3 separate regions of the Homo sapiens genome follow, and regions 1 and 3 are each linked to region 2. The links come from fine-mapping of genetic effects on gene expression. A gene starts in region 2. Each other region holds a variant in brackets. All regions are shown on one strand. Distances are between the middles of the regions.

Region 1 (8,191 bases), 120 kb before region 2:
AAAACATAAAGCAGGGTTGTGTGATAGAGAACTGGCTTCTTCACTATTAAAGTGATCTTTCTGAAGAAGTGACATTTGAGCTCAAATATGAATAATGAAAAAAGTCAAAGACATATAAAGATCCAAGGGGAGAGTATTTTAGGCAAAAGGAATAGCCAATGCAAGGGTACTTGAGTTGACCACAGCTTGACAATGTACTAGAGACAGTAAGACCAGTACAGCAGTCACATCAGTGAGTGGCAATGTGGGTAGAGGTGAAGTTGGTGAAGTAGTCAGGAGCCCAATCATATAAGACTTGAATTGAGTCAAAATGGGAAGCATTGGAGCATTTTAAGCAAGAGAATGAATAATAAAATTTATATTTAAAAACAATACTCTTACTATTGTGTAAATGGGAATGAGGAGAGGGCAGCAACAGTGGAAGCAAGATCAGCTATAAAGTTGTTACAGTAATGCACAAGGGAGCTGGCATTGCTTAGTGACTAATGATGGCGGCTACATTGAAAATGGAGGGGGGGAATCACAGTACGTTTTGGAGGCAGTGCTAACAGAAATTTCAAATGTATAGGATGTGATGGGTGAAGAAACAAGAAAAATAAAGGATGACTCTAGTTATTTGACTTGAACAACTAGGTAGATAACAGTGCAATTCCAGTAGAATGTAAGCTCCATAAGGAAAGAAATCTTGTTTTGTTTCACTGATGTATTATTCTAAGTTCCTAGATCAGTAAGTAGCACAAACTAGGGACTCAGTAAGTACATAATGATTATATTGAATATCAGATCTGGGGGAATTAAGAGTTCTGTTTGAGAATGTGAAGTTTAATTCCTATTAAATACCCATGGTTAGATGCAGAGTAGCTACATTTCCAGAGCTTTGGATGGACATCAAGGCTGGAGATATAAATTTGGGATTCATCAGCAGATAGATAATATTAAAGTCATGGGGCTGGTTGAGATTACTTATGGAGATGGTATAGGCTGAAAAGACAGCGGATCCAAGAACAAGACTTGAAATACTCCAAAAGTTAGAGAACAAGTATATTTGCAAATTGCTCACTACACATTTCTTTTCAGTAAAGTTACTTGTTTCTATATATGCATGTGTGTGTGTGTGTGTGTGTGTGTTTACTATATATAAATATGCTTCCAAATATATATGGGTGTGTATGTGTATATGTGGGTATATATACATTTATATATACACACATATATATGTTTCTATATATATTTATATATACACACATATATATGTTTCCCATATATATATATGTTTCCATTATATATATGAAAACAAGTAAATATATATGTATATTCAAACTGTTTTGGGGAGCAACATGTTAAACATTTGCAAGTATACCACTGCCTCCTACTGAACAACTGCATAAGCCCAAAATTCAAATTCATGCCCCTGGATGTTAGAATCTGGCTAATGGAAATGGAATGGTAGTAGAATTAGGGATGAGAATGGAGAAAGTGGGTATACATAACTGTTTGGGAAGTTTAAGAATAAAGGAGGCAGTAGCTGGTGGTAGATTCAGGGTCAAATAAGAATTTTTAAAAGAAAGAAGATATGAGAATGTATTATATGCCATCATTGGGAATGATCTAGTAAACAAGAGAAAGGTTGATAATAATGGAGAAATAGATTATTAGACGAATAAAATCCTTGAGAAGGTTGGAGGAAGTAGGAGTAAAAGCATAAATGGAACCACTACAAACCTATTAGAATGGCCAAAATCCAGAACACTAACAATACTAAATGCTGGTGAGTATGTGAAGCAACAAGGACTCTAAATCATTGGTAGTAGAAATGCAAACTAGTATAGCTGTTTGGAAAGACAGTTTAGAGGTTTCTTACAAAACAAAACTTATTCTTACTACATAATCCTTTACCCAGTGAAAATGAAAACTTATTTCCACTCAAAAATCTGCACACGGATGTTTATAGCAGCTTTATTTACAGTTGCCCAAACTTGGAAGCAACTAAGATATCCTTCGGTAGGTGAATGAATAAATCAACTGTGGTACATACAGACAATGGAGTATTATTCAGCACTAAAAAGAAATGAACTATCAAACTATGAAAAGACATAGTTGAACCTTAAATGCATATTACTAAGTGAAGAAAAGCCCATCTGAAAAGCCTATATATGATTCCAACTATATAACATTCTAGAAAAGCCAAACAAACCTGCATGTTGTGCACATGTACCCTAGAACTTAAAGTATAATAATAAAAGAAAAGAAAAGAAAAGAAAGGCCAAAACTACTGAGACGGTAAAAGATCACAGTGGTTGCCAGGAGCTTTGGGGAAGTGGGGAAGATGACTAGGCAGAGCAGAGGATTTTTAGGGCAGTGAAAATATTCTGTGTGATAATATAATGATGGATACATGTCATTATACATATGTTCAAACCCATAAAATGTGCAAGACCAGGAATGAACTGTAATGTAAACGATGGACTTTGGATAATAATGATGTTATTATTAATTGTTTCTCACGAAATGCTTTCATTGAGTTTTGCCAAACTCTTGTGTCCATAATCAACCTATGATTGCAATTGATGACTGAATTAGTTTCAACATGAATGTTGGTTGAGATTTTCCTTTAGCTGAGCTAGTAAGACAAAAGCAAAACAACAAAGACATGTCAAAACTTCAATCATTCATCAATAGAATTTCATCAGTTACAACAAATATACCACTTTGTGAGGAACGCTGATAGTAGCAGAGGCTATGTATGTGTTTGGGAAGGAAGTACATGGGAAATCTCTGTACCTTCCTCTCATTTTTGTTGTGAACCTAAGACAGCCCTAAAAAAGAATAAAGTCAAAAATAAAAAAATTTTCCATTGCAGGAACATTAGGGAGACAATTTATTCATTAGAAGGTGGAGGGTAAGAGAGGTATAATGGCAAGATTACCTTTAAGCTTCATTCTAAATCCTGAGAGGCTAAGATTTAGGTATGAGAAATATAAAAGCCATTTGGCTCCTATAAATTGGGTACATTTTAACTATAACTGTATCTAAAAGCACTCTGAAGTTAGTGTTCCTGATTTTCAAGCTGCTTTTTTCATTTTAAGTGTTTAGTGACCATTTATAGAAGTTCCACATTTTGCAGAAAACAGCAAAATAACGAGCAAGCTTTTCTTTTGCTAATACTTTCTTGCAATACTTAAAAATGAGGATTCTATTTCCTCTCTGTGTATATATTTGGGAATAAATTCCAGATCATTGCTGCTGTTGCAGCTGCTGTTCCTCATGGTAGACAAATCTTTCCAAGGCAGAGGGAGGGCAGCTGAGGGTAGCACCTCTGGTAAGAAAGTTTTAAAATGTCTTACTTGTTACACCAATAAGAGTTGTAATGGCCAGATCCTGGAACAGAAACTGGTAATTTGAAAGGCTGTTTGTCTCCTGAAAATAAAAAGAAAGCAGATCAAAAAAGTTGTGACCTTCTGGATGAAATTAGATATTGATTACATTTATTTTCTCACTGTGACATAGGGTTTTTCAAGTAAATTACTGTGGAGATGCTGTGTTCGGGGCCTGGTTGAGTTGGTGAGTGATGGTGTTGGTGGAAGTAATCAAAGCCAAACCTGTGAAACCCTCTCTATGCAGGGGGCCTATCATCATGTGCTTTCAGGGTGGGATTGTTTGTGCATCCTTATTACTTTGTTGAGGAGGACATCTTCCCCTACCAGATTCATCTCTGCTCTCTTTTCTACTTGTTAACAGAAAATTTAGGATTTCATTTCACACAATAAAAAAATACATCCCCAAGTGACAAATGTGTGGTAACCTTACATAAGTTTTACTGATGGAAAATAAGAATAAGTAAACTCACTATTTGCATTCTTGAATGTTTTTAGACAAAATTTTAGAAAATCCTAGCAAAACATCTTAATAGTCTAGAGGAAAAAGTGCTATGTCTTACTGATTTTAAGAAACTCACTCACTTTCTTGCTCCCCACCCCTTAGTGGAAAGGAGATAATGTTCAATGTTTAATTCTACTTTTGAGTATAATTTGGGAATTCTAAAATAGAGGCCAATTTCCAGAAATAGCCTATCCTTCTCTAGCCCATTTATCAGTGAGTAGGAAAAGATATAGTTTATC[G/T]GAGAGCAATAGAACTAAAATCTTTAACCCAGGAAAAAGAAGGCAGTATATAAAGATGAATCTGGATATCTGCCACACAGATATCCAGACGAACTTTCTTTCCTTGGTGTTGGTTAATACGGTAATCTCACATGTTGAGTTCACAGATGATGTGCATGTTTTTTTCTCTTTTTATATCTTGGTAAATAAAAAAAAGTGATCACAAGACCTATGTATTTTTGTGGTATGATATGCCAGTTTTCACATCCCTATATTCAGGGAACCAGTGGCATGCTGGCTTATACTAACACTTAAAAGTCAATTGCTAAATTTTCAGAGATGTTGTGAGCTGGTTGTTAAACAAAGCCAATACAAAAACTTAAATTATACAAGTGTACCATTAAATAAATTATACTAAAACCAAAGTTAATAAATACTCAAAGCTCAGCTATTTCTAAATATTTTTCTACATTTTACTGCTATCTCTGCCCTTAAGGTTATTTACGACTCTTGTATCTATATGGGGCAAGTATTATAGAATCATATGCTACTATACATCTTTCCCCACTTCATGTTCAGTGACAATAGGCAGACAGCTTGCAACTGGTTATGGTAGGAGTATTTACGCCACTGAAATGGGCAAACATTAATAATCAGGTCTTTTTTTTCATGCTAAATGAAGCATTTAGCAACACCCCAATGCAGAGAACCATTTCTTTAGTGAGTGGTAGACTAGGGTAGAGCCACGTTGCAATTAAGAAGATAAAGACCTTGTCCAATCAGGTAAAAGTAGCAGCAATATATTCAGTGGTGATTTCAGCTATTACTAGATAAAAGGTTTCTACATCAGAGAATTGACATCAGCAACTTTTCCTGTACAAATCTGTCTATTTGTGATTTACTTTACAAATTCTTAAGGATATTTTTGGAGGGGCTGTTGTTGTTCAGATATCCTATTTGTACTCTTTCTTTGAGAGGCATTGTAAATTGAGAGTGCACCGCTACTTGTTTTAGTTCACACTAACCAAGAGGCTAAGTCCCAAGTCATACCCAGTAGAGCAGCAGAACACCAACATACTGAATCATGCTGTACAGAGCCATGTACTTAAACATGCAAAAGGAGGTAACGAGAGCTGCACGTCCTTCCCTGTGTAAGAAAAGAAATGATAAAGACATGAAAGTAATGAAAAGACATAAGGTCAGTCATTCTGTGCTGTTCAGCTAAGCTCAGGAGAAAAAAAATCAAAAGTCATTATACGACTGTCTGTCTGAAAATGGACAGCCCTGAGCTCATGGATGCTGGCTGTCAGTAAACTACACAACCCAATTTTCAAGAAAGGCCAATTCCAGGCCAAGGTCCAAGGGCCTTGATCTGGTGATGGAGTCCAGATTTACAGTTGCTCTTGTCCTTTCAGCAGGCATTGTTTTAGCTCCTGAACTCAGATCAGTGGAGCTAGTGCCAGATCTTCTACCTATTCACTAATGAGATGCAGAAGATCATTTCCCTTGTCTCAGTTTCTTCATCTGTGAACTAATGGATTTAAATAAAATTCCAGATTCAGGGGTTATTTTCATACAGGAGCTTCAGGAGCTTGGCAAGCATTTGATTCAAATTTCATTTTGGCAGTCCCAACTTTTTCTAAAACTGGACCAAAACAATACACACTCAAATTAGTCATATATCAAATTGAAATAGGCTGGAAATGATGAGCATTTTCATTTGTGTTATTGTTGATTGATTTGAATAAATAGTACACATTTAAAGCATGAAATAGATGACACATGAAATGTCACTTTTATCTTCTATTTCATTCGGTGAAAAATAAAGTTTAAGTTACACTTTTTAAATTTAAATTATACTTTTTTTTTTGTCAGAATCTTGCTTAGTCACCCAGGCTGGAGTGCAGTGGCATGATGTCAGCTCACTGCAACCTCTGCCTACCAGGTTCAAGTGATTCGCCCGCCTCAGCCTCCTGAGTAGCTGGGACAACAGGCATGCTCCACCAGGTCTAGCTAATTTTTTTTTGTATTTTTAATAGAGACTGGGTTTCATCACGTTGGCCAAGCTGGTCTCGAACTCCTGACCTCAAGTGATCCACCCACCTCGGCCTCCCAAAGTGTTGGGATTACAGCCATGAGCCACCACACCCAGCCTAGATCATACTTCTTTAAGTTTAAACTCATGCCCACTATGATGTCCTAGGGTGTTAAAACCTGATCCCCGGGGCCGGGCGCGGTGGCTCACGCCTGTAATCCCAGCACTTTGGGAGGCCGAGGCGGGCGGATCACGAGGTCAGGAGATCGAGACCATCCCGGCTAAAACGGCGAAACCCCGTCTCTACTAAAAATGCAAAAAATTAGCCGGGCGTGGTGGCGGGCGCCTGTAGTCCCAGCTACTTGGGAGGCTGAGGCAGGAGAATGGCGTGAACCCGGGAGGCGGAGCTTGCAGTGAGCCGAGATCCCGCCACTGCACTCCAGCCTGGGCGACAGAGTGAGACTCCGTCTCAAAAAAAAAAAAAAAAAAACCTGATCCTCAAACCAGGTTTTTTTCTGTATCAGAGTTTTGCCGTGACATTTCCTCTGCCCAGAGGTAGTTTCTCCTTATTGCTTAGAGAGGTTCTCTAAGCAATAAGGAGAGGTTCTCCTTAGAGAGGTTTTCCCATACCACCCCATCTGAAGCAGCTGCTTCCACCTATATAGCCATCTTATTCCCTTTTACCCTTTTTATTTCCTGGACAGCACCTATCAAAATCAGTAGGTATCATCCTTATCTCCCTTAGTTTCTGGCACTAAATGCCTACTCACTAAAGATTTGTCAAATGCATGAATAAATAAAAAATTGGGAGGACCTAGCCAAATTATTATTTTTATGTGGTGGAAATAGTATATCTGTAGATAAAATACATTTGAATAAAATTAATTCTAAGACAATCTCTAACCTCATATGGTTGTATGAGCTTGGGCACATCAATTAAATTTTCTGAACTTCAATTGTTTTGTTTGTTAAAAAAATAGCCATTCCTGCATCTCCAGGCTGTTTTGAAGTGTGAGATAGTAGGCATTATAGCATTTTTAAACTAGAAACACATGTCAGTTACAATAACCAAGAGCAGCCACCATGCTCACTATCTCTATCATTCAAATATAATGGAGCAGAAGTACATTTTCGGCAGGGTGGTGGGGGACATCAAAGCAAATTTTAGTGAGAGCAGCAAAAGCCAATAAAGATTTTTTTTTTTTTTTTTTTTTTTTGAGACAGAGACTTGCTCTGTTGCCCAGGCTGGAGTGCAGTGGCACAATCTTGGCTCACTGCAATCTCCACCTCCCAGGTTCACACCATTCTCCTGCCTCAGCCTCCCAAGTAGCTGGGACTGCAGGAGCCTGCTACCACGCCCAGCTAATTTTTTGGTATTTTTAGTAGAAACGGCGTTTCACCATGTTAGCCAGGATGGTCTCAATCTCCTGACCTCGTGATCTGCCCACCTCGGCCTCCCAAAGTGCTGGGATTACAGGCGTGAGCCACTGCGCCCGGCCAAAGATTTTGAAAACTTTATTTTTCAAATAAAAATTGAAAAGGAGATAGTTACATTTGAAAAATGGGGATGATTGACACTTTCAAAGCAATAACAAGTTCCAGATTCCAATCTTCTAAAAATAACCTAATCAGTGAATTCACTGGAAATGCCACTGCTCTCCCAATGTTATTGTTAACTTCTGGAAAATCCATTTGGAAGTAGAATGCTTGACTGCATTCTTCCACAAAACACCCTCCGCACCCAGGGACAGAAAGTTTCTCTAGTCTTTCCCAGGCAGAACAATGTGATTTGCACCAGAAGTCAAGAGAGAGAAAACAATGTTTGAGGAAGTGCCTACTTACTTGATAAGGTGAGGTACGCACTCAATGTTTGGAGTTTTGGAAGTGAAAGGTGAGGCCACAGATGCCTCCTGCTCTGATAATGAGATGCCCACATGAGCCATTTTCAGAGCCTGAAAGCAAAGAATCAGCTTACTCCTCACATAGACTCACGTACGTCTCTACTAAAGCCTCATAAGAAAAGGCCAGTTAAGCTGGCCACAAGGTGGTTTGTGTGCCC
Region 2 (8,191 bases):
CCCATAATCCCAGCACTTTGGGAGGCTGAGGCAGGTGGATCACAAGGTCAAGAGATTAAGACCATCCTGGCCAACACGGTGAAACACCATCTCTTCTAAAAATACAAAAAATTAGCCAGGCATGGTGGCATGCAGCTGTAGTCCCAGGTACTCGGGAGGCTGAAGCAGGAGAAACACTTGAACCCAGGAGGCAGAGGTTGCAGTGAGCCGAGATCACGCCACTGCACTCCAGCCTGGCAACAGAGCAAGACTCCGTGTAACAAAAAGAAAAAAAAAAAGTACATATTCCTTTTGGTATAACTGAATGGCAAGAGATGACCTCATTTTTGTGGGATAGTATTTACTCAATTGGTTAATTGCTAAGCCCTTGGCTTTTCCTACCTTTATTTAGATGATAGCAGCTCACACCTCGCCAGAACTGTTTACTTCTCAAAACATGTTTATATGGATTATCTCCACTGATCTTCATGAGAACTCTGTGAGTCTGGTGGGGGTAAGAAGGACCAGTCCTATTTTACAGGTATAAAAACTGAGGCTAGAGCAGGCAAGCGGCTGGCCCAAGGCCGGTGAGAGCCAGGCCTCCCGTCCCGTCCCAGTGCTCTCCCAGAGTTTCCTCCTCGAAGCCTTTCTGAGGCAGTCATTTAGGTGAACCTTCGCTGAAGGCCACTTTCTCACCTTTCCTTCCTTCTCCCTCCAAAAGCTTCTTTCTACCTTTGGGTCCTGTCTCATTTCGCAGTTAAAGATATTATTTTCAGGTCACCTAGGGTTGCTCTTTAGTTCCTGTTTGCTTTTGGTTTGTTACTTGTTTATTTATTTATTTTTATCTATTTACTTATTTTTGAGACAGAGTCTTGCTCTGTTGCCAGGCTGGAGTGCCATGGCGCGATCTTGGCTCACTGCAACCTCTGCCTCCCAGGTTCACGCCATACTCCTGCCTCAGCCTCCCAAGTAGCTGGGACTACAGGTGCACGCCACCCTGCCTAGCTAATTTTTGTGTTTTTAGTAGAGATGGGGTTTCACCATGTTGGCCAGGATGGTCTCAATCTCTTGACTTGGTGATCCGCCCGCCTCGGCCTCCCAAAGTGCTGGGATTACAGGCACGAGCCACCATGCCCAGCCTGTTTTTGGTTTTTTAACTCCAAAATGGAAGATAATCCCAGGCATCTTTAGGCCTCAGAATATTCTTCTTTATTTGACATGAGGTCTAAACCCTAGCATGTTGTTTTCTCTTGAAATTTGAAGTAATTTCTACCACAAGAGAAATTACGTTTGCAAAGGTTCAAGTAAAGTATATTATAAAGCATGAAACTAAACACTTTGGTGTGACACATTTCTGGACTTGGAAGTCAGAGAAGACAGACTTATTTAAGCTACTCGAATTATCTAGAAGAAAAAAGAAACTCAAATTATCTATAACAGAACAGATGCTGGGGAATCTAAGAAGACTGGATGTTGATGTTCTCCTTAGCTTTGTTTTATGAAGGAAGGGAATGTGTTCTGTTAAGAGTGGAATGTTCTCCGGAAGAACTGGAAAAGGTATCAGTGGGCTATGTTCAGGTCCAGAGACAAAAGAGCTGTCAACTTAAACTAACCTGTGCGGTGCCTCAGCTCCTGGACTTACTGGTTGATGCAACCTTAGGGAAAGCCTGTGTGCATCAATTTCCTCATCTTTAAAGTTAGAATCACAGCATCTACCTCATAGGGTTGTGAGGAAAACTAAATTAGCTAGTGGCCAAGAAAATGCTGTGTATACTAAAAATCACTACAAAATATGTAGACTATATATATAGCTTGATAATTTTTAAAGTTTACTGCTCTGGGCAAGGGATGGAGGAGTGAGTTAAAAAGGAACACAGTGTCAGACACAGCAACAGGCAGGTGGCCAGGTTTCTGTAGGCAGAAGAGGATGGAGAGCTCAGGAGTGCATACTAATTGCTGCACCTCTGCTGAGACTACTGGCCAAATGGCTGCCTACCAGAAAACACAGTGTCCCTTTCCATATTAAAGGGCCTCTCCTAACTGGGCTTTCAGCTGCATACAAAACTACGTGGAGTTCTCCATGCATCTGATGGTGCCATTATGAAGATGAACTGTTAACTAAATTGCTTTGGTGGAATATGTATGCTAGGGAAGAGGTAACAGTTTCCCTACAACCATGAATGTCTTCTGGAAAATAAATGATTCTTATTGAGACTTGAAAGACAAATTGTCTGAGAGCAGAAAGGGGTTTACTGGAAAAGAGTGAGTGTATTTCTAAATGAGAGAGAAAAAAAATGTTTCAGAGGAAGGAGCCCCTGCCTTCTGGTGAAGAGTATTCAAGATGAAGATAAACTTTTCAACTTAATATCGAGAGTAATGAGATATTCACTTCCTAAAGAAAACTCTTTAAAGAAACAAAGATGATATCCAATGTGGGCTAGCAAGCCATTTCTGGTGACATTTGTGGAGGGGCTGAAGGCAATTCATTTGGCAGTCAAATCTGAATGAAGTAAAGGATATGGTTAAGAAAGGCACCTGAATTAATGTACATTTTACTTCTTTATAATTTTTTCAGCTTTGATAGCAGAAGGGATCTACTCTTGAAAGTCCAAAAAATGTTGTTGCTATAGGAACAGGTAAGCAGATTAGACTTGAAAGACCAGTTTAGGAACAAAGAATGTAATAGTCAGGGCTAAAGCAATTAACCAAGAAAACATTTTAAGTAAATATCTTTCAGGTTTGTTATTTACATATTAATTCCAGGAAGATTAAATGCTATTATGGAATGAGAGCGTCACATTTTAACATTTTAATTACATCATTACTGGCATAAAAGACTATGCTTACACAATTAGCAGAAAGATCTTATTAAACAGAAGTACATATTTCTAACTCTCTCTTGATTATATTGTAATTGAGAAATACAGTTTTAAATTCATCCTGAGCATGAAAGTCATCTTTGATTTTCCTATAGTTCTCAAGATAGAAGCACATCTAAAATCAAAGAGATACTGAACTACCGAAAGTTTTCTGTAACCAATCTCTATAATGAGGAAGCCACAAAAGTAAAATTCTAGAAGAAAACAGAAATGTGTGTAGGCTGATAATTGTTAATATTGCATGTCTTCCCTGTCCAACAGACTCGGTGAACAAGACATTTGAGAAGAGAAGGTCAAAGACCCAGCTGCACTTCTGCTTCACTGCTGAACTTCTGCTTCTTCCTATCAGGGAATACACTGCTCCTCACATTAGGGATTTCCTAAAATTGTTAGGTGTTTTGAACAGAACTGGCTATACCAATGAGGCTCAAACAAGAATCATAAAGTGCATGGTGCTTCTCTCCCTCTCTGTTTTCTTTAAAAAGAAAACATTCTTGACAAGATGAATACAATATTTTCATTCTAGCAAATTTCTGCTGTCAGAGGTTATATTTACAGGATAGAGAGATTTCTCAAACATGACCTTTTCTCGTGTAATACCAGAGTGAAATTTTAGAAAAGTCTGTGTGTGTGTGATGCGTGCGTGTGTGTGTGTGTGTGTGTGTGTGTGTGTGTGTCTCGCAGGCTGAGAAGTGGGATGGGAAGAAGGGAATGTGGCTAGAATCTTACCATCTCATTCTCTTCTCCTTCATTGAGCAGAGCGTGCTGGCCCTTCTCAAAGTGTCCCATGAAAAAGTTATTCCACACCTCCTCCCTGACCTTGTCGTGCAGACGCTTCCAGGATGAACTCCAACTCGCCGAGCCACCGCAGCTCCTCAGCTGACTAAAAGAGTTAATGATCCTCCAGGTTAAAACTCCTCCTTGAGCACACACCTTCTCTCAACAAATGACAATACTTGGCAAACTGAACTCCTCCCACGAGTCGCCCTCTGCTAGGAGGAATTGCTGGCTGCTCCCTGCTTATTGCATTCTCTCAGAGCAGCTGTCTCAAAGGAGGCTGCTCCCATGCCGATCTTTTTGTGCCCAACTTACAGGGAAAGAACTCATTGCCTGCCCAGTGCCTGCCAGCCTCAGACTTCTGACTGCAAATCCAACAGGACAATACAGAGTTGGCAGGACCCTTCTCAGGAGTGAGGAGCGGGTGCAAGAACTCCCAGGTCACTGCTTTATTCAGAGGACCTAAGGAATTGGGTTGAGCGGAAGCGCACAGAGCTGCAGATTTTCTTTGATGAATGAAAGCTTCAATCCACAGGTTTCTAATAGTACTCTCATTCATTTTGCTTACAAAAGGTACAGATTATCACTAATCCTCTTCAAAAGGTATTTGTAATCACATTTCCTTGTATATGCAAAAAAAATTCTATTTAAAGTGTATGTGAAATTAAGTTTACTTTTTTGAAACACATGTAGAAAAAGAACAAAGGTATCATCAAACTAGTCTATGTAGTCTCCTTTCACTAAAATATTGATGGTTCAACACTTAAGGAAGTCTAGAAATAAAATATTCAAATGACTATATGGCCAGACTCTTTTTTAATTTGTTTACACATTTATTCAATAAACAGTGCCTGAGCACAGGGACTACCTAAAAAAGTTAAGTCATATTTGCTACCCTCGTGTTGATGTAAGGATTCAAACATCCAAACAAATATGATAGAAAGTGGATTGTTATTATAAGAGATGGAACAGAAGTCTAAGAAAACTGTCAGAAGTCCCAATGTGGTGTAGAGAAACACACCCCTACCCTAGCTCTGGCAAAATACCTGTATTCCAGCTGCTTGTCTGCACTGGCCTTGCTGTGTGATCATTTAACTATAGGAACCGGCTCTTCTCATCTGGTACCGCCCGACAGGACTTTTGAGAGAATGGAATGAGATCATTGTGAAAGTACATTGTACAGCACTGATCAAGTGCTGTTAGGATTATTAAACTAAATGTGCATTTGAACAGTAGGTGTTAGGACATAGTGGCTAAGGGCATATACACTAAATTTGGAAGGCCTGAGTTCAAATTTGGACTGTACTAGGTGGTCGTTGTGCTACCTTGGGATATAACAAGTTATACAAACTCCATTCTCCTCTATTTCCTCACATGTAACATAAAGATGATGATAATAGAACCTACGTCCTAAAACAGACTTTTAAGAAAGAGTGCCTGGGAAATAATAGGTGTTCCACAAAAGATAGTTATTTTTACCTTCACCATGTCCACTGTCTGTCCCTCAAGCTACATTGGCAATGATATCTCCAACCTGACCCAAATAACCCTAATGTGACCAAGATCAATGTGTGCATGTGTGTGTGTGTATATGTTGTATGTGTAAAACCTTGAGCAAATAGTGAAGTATAGGATAAACATAAAAAGTAAGCTAAGTAAACCCATTGTAATAGTAATTACAAAATATATATGTACGTGTGTGTGTATGTGTGTGTGTGTGTGTATATATATATGTAGTTCTCTTGGTTTCAAAAATTTGCTAGCACAATTTAACCAAATAAATGAAAATAAAATTAACATTTTATCACAAGGTCAAAATATAAGGAGTAAAGGGTTTATGGGGGGGGTAATAAAAATGTTCTAGAACTACTGATGGCTTCAAAAATTTGTGAACATACTAAACCTCACTGAACTCTATACTTTAAAAGGGTGAATTTTATGAAATGTGAATTATATCTCAATGAAGAGATATAACAAATTTAAAAATCATACCTCAATAAAAAATTATACCTCAAAAAAACCTAACTGAACATTTAACAGCCTTACTAGGCAGTAATTATATATTTAGTACAGAAAAAAATATAAAACAAGCATATTCCAAATTTCATCTCAACTGATGGAGGTTGAGGAGTGTTAGTATGTGACGTGGTGAAACTATATCAGTGCTCCTGGGCAGGTGAGAAAGAAGTAATTCATTCTCCTGTTTATCACTGGCAATATTTGCAGTTTCCTTTTGGCTGGGTTCCTGAATGCACTTGGCAACTCTTGCACCGTTGTGGGATTGAGATGAGTGTGTAACTGATTAACAGCTAGAGGAGAAACTGTACACAAACTTACCCCATCAAATAAATCAGGTCATGCTGCTACAATATTTAAGCTAAACTTGAACAGGAAAATATGTAAGTCCTTAAGAACATTAAAAGCTTTTATAAAAATCAGATGTCCATGGAAAATTATTTTCCACAAACCTGGTTCAATAGAGCTGAGGACTCCAGTAGTGAGAGAGTTTCCTCAGGTTCCTTGGGAGTTCTATTGGTAAAACATCTAGATTTTATCGATGGCAACACTGCTTATGGACAGCACTCACCCTCATTTAGTGATTTTGGTCTACAAACATAACCATAACCAGAAACAGGGCTAGGTTGTGTGGGAAAGCAAAGAGAACATTTACAGAACACTTCCACATATGAGGCACAATTCTAAACAGTTTACACTCACTGTTGCACACAATCCTGACAAAAGCCTCTGTGGTTGATACTATTCTGGTCATTCTTATTTGACAGACAAGGAAACACAGGTGCAGACATTAAGTAATTTGCCTACATTCAAACCATTAGTAAGTGACAGAATGAGTATTCGGACCTAGGCAATGCAGCTCTCCCAATCCGTGATCCTAGTTACTGGACTAATACCTCTTCTACACATTTATTTGGCACATCCAAAGTGCTCTGCAAAGAGGTTTGCATTTATATGACCAGAAAAGCCTCTTTGTGAAGGAAGCATTTTGAGAAAGGCCTTGGAAAGAGCCAAAAATGCTTCAACAGGTGGAGATGCTGAGGCTCGGACAAAGAGTAAGGCCGCAGGAAAGAGCATTTGAAGCAAGGGAATCATCAGAGGAAGAAACACATGGTCATGTTCAGAGCAAGCCCATCAGCCTCACTGCAGCATGGGCTGCATGAAGGAAGAAGAGGGGAGTGACATGTGGCAGGGAAATATGGACCAACGCCATGCATGGAGGTCCTGAATGCCAGGTCTGAGTCTGAGCTTAGTGCACAGAGTGACAATAACATGGAAGGCAAACTGAACTCCATAAATATCCCTACTGTTCCTGATCAGCCTGTGCTCTCATATTATAGGAATCAGGTCCAAAGCGACTCAGTCCTTCTATGCAATACTGTATTTATGTAGACAGTTTTCTTGAACCTTCTAAGTTAAGTCTTCTATTTCTCTTAGGAACATTGTTTGAAAAGTTATTCTTGAATTCACCCTCCCTTTCCTTAATTGTGCCTGTTCAATATTTCTATTCTATACTCTACGTGCCTCACGGGTTGTGATGTGGCGTAGTAAGAATGGCAGATGAGGATTTGGTGTGGTCTGAATTCTAATCTTGACATTTTCCTGAAGGATTCCATTCACTCATTCACTTAGCACTAGTTTGATTAACTTCAGTATGCCCAGATCTGTAATAGATGAAGAATAGAGATTTAATAAATTATGCCCCAGAAAAGTTAAGTCCATTAAGAAACAAGACCAACACCAAAATATAAATTCCACATAATATGCTAATTACACAAGAGTGACAGAGGAACTTCAAGTAGGGAGTTAGGCCAGGAAACCCTCACAAGGATAGGAGTTTTATGCTTGTCTAGATAAATACAGGTGGGAAAGGAAAGCATTATTAACAAAGGAGACAGAGAGCAAAAGCACAGATGAGGGCTCGCACACAGCCCATTCTGGGGGCTACAAATTATACACATATATTGATATCTCAGAATTGAGAGGAATGTCCAAAAGGAAAAGTACCTTCGTTCATTCTCTGATTCTCTCCCTGAACTCATTTTTTCTCAAATACTCTCTCCCAAATAAGAATGGGAACGGAAAATAAAAAGGACAAATACTTAGCTACCTCTGCTGATCTGGCATCTCGGTTTGCTTTTGATTATCTTAGGAGCATGCCTGTTGTTCTGAGCAGTTCTCAACCTCTGTGATTGTCTAGAATAGATGTCCAATGGAAATAATGGCAGGACCGGTTTCTCTGCCAGGGCCGTGGGGATGCTGATGCTTCACTTGTCTGGCCCATTTAGGTTTTGTGATGATAAATGGTAATAATGTTTCATTATATGTTAATTTCCATCTTTCATCTGAGAACTCACAGCATATTACAAATATTGTTTTTTGCAACATCTCTGTGAAGTAGGGAGGTGAGTAGTATCATTGCTCCCATTTGAAAGCTGTAGGAACTGAGTCATAAAGAGGTCACAAAGAGCTGTTCAAGGTCATGTGTCTTTACCATGGAGAGGAACCTGAAACAAGTGCAATATCTCTGCCTTGTCATC
Region 3 (8,191 bases), 27 kb after region 2:
ATCTCTATGTTGCAATCTAACATACAGAAGACTGTATCTCATGATAACCTTTTCTTCCAGTGCTTTCAAACAGTGAGGCTTTATTAACACTTCCATGAAACAGTTCTGAAAATTAAAAACACTTCAATCTCTTTCATTCTCTCTGAATAGAGAATATGTTTTAATGGAGTAAATTCTCAACTTTCAGACTGCAAACTCAAGTGCATAATAAATATTGCATTTCTTGGGCTAGGTGCGGTGGCTCACTCTTATAATCCCAGCACTTGGGAGGCTGAGGCGGGTGGATCACTTGAGGTCAGGAGTTCAAGACCAGCCTGGCCAACATGGTGAAACCCTGTATCTACTAAAAATACAAAAAGTAGCCAGGTATGATGGTGTGTGCTGTAATCCCAACTACTCGGGAGGCTGAGGCAGGAGCATTACTTGAACCGAGGAGACGGAGGTTGCAGTGAGCCAAGATCACACCATTGCACTCTAGCCTGTGCAACAGAGTGAGACTCCATCTCAGAAATATCTATATCTATATCTATATCTATATCTATATCTATATCTATATCTATCTATCTATCTATTGCATTTATTTAAATAGACTTAATTTTAACTCTACACCTTCACTTAGTTGGTTTCTGGGAAGCAACTGCTGCCATTTTGGTGGTTCTCTCAGTATGAAAAATAAAATTAGGTCATTCTCCCATTATAGAGAGTGTGGTGATTCATTTTGTGTGTCAACTTGACTGGATTAAGAGACACCATGACAGTTGGTAAAGCATCACTTCTGGGTATATCCATGAGGATGTTTCTGAAAGAGACGGGTTTTTGAAGCAGTAACTGAGTAAGGGAGATTTGCCCTCACCCAGTGTGGGCATGCACCATCCAGTCACTGAGTTCCTGGACAGAACAAAAAGGGAGAGGAAAGGAACATACCCTCTGTCTGTCTGTCTGTCTGTCTCTCTCTCTTTCTTCCTCTCCCTCTTTCTCCTCCCAGGAGCTGGACACCCATCTTCTCCTATGCTTGGACATTAGAACTCCACATTCTCCCCATTCCAACCAGAAACTGACACAAATACTATTGTGGCTGGGTTGTAGCCAGTTTTCTTAATGTACATGCTGATTTCCTTAATTATTTCCTCCTATCTCTTCTGACTGTAGGATGGCTCAGTGGAATCCATTTTGTCAACTCCAACAATTAGTTTTTTCACACCCTGTGTGTAAGGCAGAAGGGCATGATCACAGGTCTGTCCGGTTTTGGAGATACCAGCTTCAAAGTTGCCAACACCAGCAGCAATAATCAGGACAACACAGCCCACCTGATATGTCCCTGTAATCACGTTTTTGATAAAGTCTCTGTGGCCTAAGGCAACAGCGATAGTCACTTGCTGGTCTCAAATTTCCAAACAGAGGTATCAATGGTGAGTAATATCACATTCACACTCAGCATTCAGTTTATCCAATACCCAGGAATAGTTGAAGACACTCTTTCCCATCTCAGCAGCCTCCTTCTCAAATTTTTCAGTGGTTCTTTCTTGATGCCACCACGTGTGTAGATTGGATGGCCAGTAGTGGTGGACCTGCTCGAATCTACGTGTCCAATGGTGACAATGTTGATATGAGTCTTTTTCTTTCCCATTTTGGCTTTTAGGGGTGGTTTTCATGACACCTGTGTTCTGGAAGCAAACCTGCTGCAATGGGAATATATATGTATTGTAATATATATATATATATTCCTATTCTTACTATAGGTAGTGTTTTTGGTGGCAGAGTTAGGCAGTCTAAACATCACTCTGTGTTTTCCACTATTGTTCCCAGTTTTACTTATGGTTAAATTGGCCATATGACTAGGTTCTGGCCTACAGGATGTGGGGAGAAATGAAGTAAGTCATTTCTATGCCAGCCCTTACAAATCATGTCAGACAATCCGTGCTCTCCAAAGTGACCTTGGAAGCCACGTTTCAGATGGTGTAGCTGGGAACAACCTGGGTCTTGCGTCTCCTGCTCAAGCAGCATATCCCATTCTATCTCAACTGATAGAATCACTGAATGCACACTATGTGCCAAGCACTACTCTAAGTGCCCATACGTTAACTAATTTTATAATGAGATACACATATTAGCAAATATCATAACATCATGGTAATAGAATGATACAGAAGGACATGCCTAAAATGGCATTGAACCTCAAATCTACCACACATATCCTTCCAGTATTTCTTCCCCATTCTTTCTGCTTGTCTAAATCTCACCCTAAATTTTATTTCAGTTAAGGAACAAAGTGGTAAACTGGATATGTTAAAGTAAAAAGGAAGAAGTTCTAGCGTGTGTGTTTATTTTATATAAATATGTGAATCCAATCTATTTATTAAGAGCTTCTTGAGAGCTGTGGATTCCTACAACCTCTCCTGCTGATATAGCCTGGTAAATTGACTACTGAAAGTGGATTAATTTTGTCTTCTCTAAATGCAAGCACCACTGCTGTTTAGGTGGGCCTCCAAACTGGGAGACAGTAAGTCCCATTGTCCTGGTGGTGTTTGTGAGTTGGACCAGGATTATAGCAGTTGTAGCAGGATATAGCCTCAACTTGGTTTATCTTGGCCCTTCCTACCACCAAGGATTCTTAGGACCATACAAAGTATGAGAGAGAAAGGAGACTGTCAACAGCTTGTGACAAAGAGCAGCAAAGATGTGGGAGCTGGTCCTTCTGCAAGGCACACAATTCAACTCACTCTTACAGAGGAGGGTGCTAGCAAGCTAGTATACGTACTACTAAGAAGAATCACCATGCAGAATTACTCAAAGCCTAGTATATATATTTTTTTATTGTACAGGCCAAGTTACAGAATAGAATGAAGGTAGGGATTATGTTTTTAGTCTAAAACAGAAGCAAAGAGGAAATGAACCAGAGTGTGGAGCAAAAAATACCTGCGAGTAGGGGGAGAAAAACCTCAGAACCGGTGAGCGGGGAGGAAAGGAAAGGTACGGTTTTGAACATGACATTGGCTTAAAAGATTATAAATTGTAAGAGGCATAGAAACTTCAAAACAGAAAGAAAAAACTAAATTGCAAAAGCTTTTAATGATGGGAAGGTTGAAATAGAGTGAAGAAAAGCAGTGTTGTGCTGCTCAAACAATGGTGTATGGGTAATCGTTTAACAACTGGCTCTTCCAAAAATGATGTGTTCATATGCATAAGTTTCTTATACATTTTACTATGAATAAATGCTTCATTACTATCAATCCTATCTATTTCAACAAAGAAGTTGCTCACATCGTTAACCTATGAGTTTAGCTCTGACATGAATATGGGTTGTATTTTCCGATACATTAGTGAGTAAGAGAAAAGTAAAACAATGAAGATGTACATTAGGAAAATTTAAATTAATGATGATGTGCAAGACTTCTTTACTGAATTAGATAATAGTGTTCAAATACTGAAAGAATATTGTCTCAATTATGTATGTTATTCACAATGTAAAACCACAGACAGAACACACTTTAAAATTTAATCTGTAGTGTTATTTTTTTCCATCACTTTCTTAAGATTAGACAATCAACGAAAAACAAATCAAGCCCTGATTTGTAGTGCGTGCTGATTTCTATGGTGGAAATACTGCCACCATGACTAGTTTCAAGCTATACCAGCAACATGTCACTGAACGCAGAGTTAGAAAGAGAGGCGCAATAGCACCTCATTATATGTATAGCGTTTCCACCATACAAATGCAATGGACGTGATAACCACGTGCCTAGAAAATAATTCCTTATGCTTAGTAGTCACAGGTAATCTCTGAAGTCCCCCAAATTCCTAGCATTCCTAATCCCTTTGAATCTGATGAATCTGATTCTGTTTAGGTGGCAGGAATTATTGAGGCGCCTGAGACCTCTCAAGAGAGTGTTAGGAAGGGACACTTAAGGGAAAA[CACTT/C]ACCTCTTCCTGATCTCTGGGAATGTCTCTCCTCCCATGTTTGCTTCTCCAAGACCCTCTCTTCTACTCCAGGCCTCCCAGCAAAATCTGGTTTTCTTATAAAACCAGAAGAGCCTTGAATTGCCAACATTTCTCCTGCTAACATCCCCAAGGCAAGGTTACAAAAGCTGGCTGTCTTTTCGATGAGGACAGAAAAGAGAAGTCTGGAAAACATAACATAAACCGAGAATGCATCTCACTTCAGCAGTTGGTACAGCTGAAGCAAGGCTTCAGTGTGAATGCTGACAATGGGGTCACATGTTCTCAGTCAATAACATATTAGATTAGCAGTCCCTGGTGCAGATTTTCTAATTAATTACTAAAATACCTGAAAAGACTTCCATATATATATATATATATATATATAATATACACATATATACTTACATATGTATACTTTTCTTTTCTTTTTTTTTTTTTTTTTTGGCGGAGTTTTCCTCTTGTGGCCCAGGCTGGAGTGCAATGGCATGATCTCAGCTCACTGCAACCTCCCCCTCCAGGGTTCAAATGATTCTCCTGCCTCAGCCTCCAGAGTAGCTGGGATTACAGGCGCACACCACTACGCCCAGCTAATTTTTTTATTTTTAGTAGAGATGGGGTTTTACCACGTTGGCGAAGATGTTCTCCATCTCCTGACCTTGTGATCCGTCCGCCTCAGCCTCCCAAAGTGTTGGGACTACAGGCGTGAGCCACCGCACCTGGCCATATGTATACTTTAATATATGCATGTACATATAATATATACATGTATATACTTATAAGTATACATTAATAATATATGTACATTATATATTATTACATATATTATATGTATTATATATAATACATATAATATATATTACATATATTATATATGTATATTACATGTATATTATATATGTATATTACATACATTATATATGTATATTACATACATTATATATGTATATTACATATATATTATATATGTGTATAACATATATAATATATATGTATATTACATATATAAAATATATATGTATAATACATATATAAAATATATATGTATATTACATATATAAAATATATATGTATATTACATATATAAAATATATATGTATATTACATATATAAAATATATATGTATATTACATATATAAAATATATATGTATATTACATATATAAAATATATATGTATATTACATATATAAAATATATATGTATATTACATATATAAAATATATATGTATATTACATATATATAAAATATATATATGTATATTACATATATATAAAATATATATATGTATATTATATAGATATAAAAAATATATATGTATAACAATGAAAACCCTCTAGCCAGTATCATAAAGGAATAATCACTGTGGAGCAGAATTGAAGGGCATAGTTATGGTCAATACGTACTTTACTACATAAAAATAAAGAAGGGGCTGGGTGCAGTGGCTCAAGCCTGTAATCCCAGCACTTTGGGAGGCCAAGGCAGGCAGATCACCTGAGATCAGGAGTTTGAGACCAGCCTGGCCAACGTGGCGAAACCCCGTCTCTACTAAAAATACAAAAATTAGCTGGGATTGGTGGCGGGCGCCTGTAATCCCAGGTACTCAGCAGGCTGAGGCAGGAGGATTGCTTGAACCCAGGAGGCGGAGGTTGCAGTGAGCCGAGATCATGCCACTGCACTCCAGCCTGGGAGACAGACTCCATCTCGAAAAACAAAAATAAAATAAAATAAATAAATAAATAGTAAGATGACAAGAAAAAACAAGATGATAGCTGTAAAAAATATTGTATCAAATAATAGAAGGAGATCTCATATGCAGAGATGTAGCCTAGTACCTGGTACACTAAATCAGTATTTACTATGCATGTAATCATAATAGTTGTTACAGTAGAAAGATCCAAAGGAAGATTGTATCTTTGAATTTATTACAGGGACAAGAAAAAAAATCAGACAATAAGTTGGCATTTCAATACAATGAAAGAAGCTTGACCTCTAAGATACAAGCACAGAAAGCAATAAAAATAAGTAAAGGAAATATTTCAAATTTTATAATTCAAGAGTAAATCCTTAAAACTACTTAAAAAGCAGGAAAAGGCAAAAGTGTCACTGCAAAACAAAATGAAATTTGTGACATGCAGTAGATTGCAGAAAAGGTATAAAAATTGTTCTTTTAAAAAATGATAAATATAGAAGATTTCTAAACAAAGATTAGAAGTACAATTTGAAAACTACAGCTAGTTTCAGGTGTGGCTGGATAAACTGATTCTTTCCTCCCCTTTCCCCAACCCATCACACTCACACACTCCATATCAGAAAGAAATCATTAAAATAATTTCACTGGAGCTGCGTAGTACACAGAATAACGCTTCCCACAAAGAAGTCTGAATCCTAATCAGAAGCTGTGCATGTGGCAAAGGGTAATTAAGTTTGCTGACCAGTTGACCCTAGAATAGGAAGATTATCCTCGATTATCTAGGTAGGCTGATCAAATCACACGGATGCTTACATGTGGAAAGCGGAGGTGGAAGGATTAGCATTGGAGTGATGTGGTGTTGGAAAGGTTTGACCAGTCACTGCTGGCTTTGAAGATGGAAATGAGACACAAGCAAAGAAATGTGGGTGGCCTCTCAAAACTGGAGAAGGAAAAATAAAAAAGGATTCTTCCCTAGAGACCCATTTCTTATTTCTGACCTTCAGAACTATAAGATAATAAATTTGTTCTGTTTTAAGCCACTAATTTGGGGTAATTTGTTACAGCAGCAATAGGAAACGAATACCAGCTGAAATCAATTCTACACAGCACACAAGGCTCTTTGCCTGTTATGCTCATTTTCTGCTCCTCATCTCTATACTAATGAGGCTGCCTTCTGTTGGGTCCATTTCACTTTTCTTCTATTTTTTTTTTTAACAAAAAAAGATACATTTTAAAATGTTTAATGTAAACTTTCAATACATGCAAAGTGAACAGAAAAGTATAATGAACTCTCATATACCTACTGGGCAGCTTCCATGGTTATTAACATTTTGTGATTCTTGCTTCATCTAACCTCTACCCACTTCCCATCCTCCTCATGTAATCATTCTTCATAGCTTTTTAATGTAAAATGTACACATGCAAATCTACAATTTTAAATGAACAAATCTTCGCTATACATTTTGACAAATGGATGTGTTCATGTAACTGAGACTTCTATCATGATATGGAATGTTCCCATGTTTCTAGAAAGTTCCCCAATGTTCCTCCCCACTCTCCATATCTATTTTTCCTGGTCTAGAGCATCATATAAATGGATGCTCTAAATCAAGCTTGTCCATCCTGCAGCCTGCAGGCTGCATGCGGCCCAGGATGGCTTTGAATGCAGCTGAACATAAATTCGCAAACTTTGTTACTGTTTCTTAAAACATTATCAGTTTTGACCAGGCACGGTGGCTCACCCCTGTAATCCCAGCACTTTGGGAGGCAAAGGTTCGTGGCTCACTTGAGATCAGGAGTTTAAGACCAGACTGACCAACATGGTGAAACGTCATCCCTACTAAAAATACAAAAAAATTAGCTGGGTGTGGTGGCAGGCACCTATAATCCCAGCTACTCAGAAGGCCAAGGCAGGAGAATCACTTGAACCCAGGGGGCAGAGGCTGCAGTGAGCTGAGATCGCGTCATTGCACTCCAGCCTGGGCAACAAGAGCAAAGCTCTGTCTCAAAAGAAAATAACAACAACAACAACAACAACAAAACAAAAAACATCAGGTTTGTTTGTGGGTTTTTTGCAATTTTTTTTTTGTAGCTCATCAGCTATTGTTAGTTTATTTTATGTGTGGCCCAAGACAATTCTTCTTCCAATGTGGCCCAGGGAAGCCAAAAAATTGGACACCCCTGTTCTAAATGTTTATATGGTACATTCTTTTTTGAGTTCAGCGCGTCTGTTAGATTCATTCGTGTTGTTACATGTATCCGCAGGTCATTCTGTTTGTTGTTGAGGAGTATTTCATTGTGTAAATTTCCTTTCATTTTCTCACTGCTGCACGTTTCATTTGGCTCCAGTTTTCAATTACCGTGAAAAAGTCGCTATGAACATGTTTGTACAAGACTTTCCATGAACACGTTTTTACTTCTCCTAGATAAATCCCTGAGAGTGGAATGGTTAGACCAAAGGGGAAGTGTATATTTAACTTTATAAGAAAATGCCAAATATTTTTCCAAAGTGGTCGTGCCATTTTACATTCCTGCCATCGGTTATTGACAGTTCTGGTTGCTCC

What was found.
Region 1: its variant is fine-mapped to the expression of ATP13A4 in whole blood (TOPMed, PIP above 0.99).
Region 3: its variant is fine-mapped to the expression of ATP13A4 in whole blood (TOPMed, PIP above 0.99).

What each region holds. Positions count from the first base shown.
Region 1 is chr3:193,430,501-193,438,691 of GRCh38, forward strand. It overlaps ATP13A4 (ATPase 13A4), which reads right to left. Exons shown (of 30, transcript NM_032279.4): 23 at 7,975-8,084; 24 at 5,148-5,244; 25 at 3,345-3,417. Among named protein-coding and RNA genes, the nearest start is that of ATP13A5, 56 kb to the left of the region's middle. The variant G/T (reference allele first, on the strand shown) is at 4,119.
Region 2 is chr3:193,551,153-193,559,343 of GRCh38, forward strand. It overlaps ATP13A4 (ATPase 13A4), which reads right to left and starts at 3,743. Exons shown (of 30, transcript NM_032279.4): 1 at 3,588-3,743. The coding sequence starts at 3,647. ATP13A4-AS1 (ATP13A4 antisense RNA 1) reads left to right here and starts at 2,061. Exons shown (of 2, transcript NR_121666.1): 1 at 2,061-2,135; 2 at 3,618-4,432.
Region 3 is chr3:193,577,787-193,585,977 of GRCh38, forward strand. It overlaps a transcript of ATP13A4 not described here and the pseudogene EEF1A1P23. Among named protein-coding and RNA genes, the nearest start is that of OPA1, 11 kb to the right of the region's middle. The variant CACTT/C (reference allele first, on the strand shown) is at 3,914.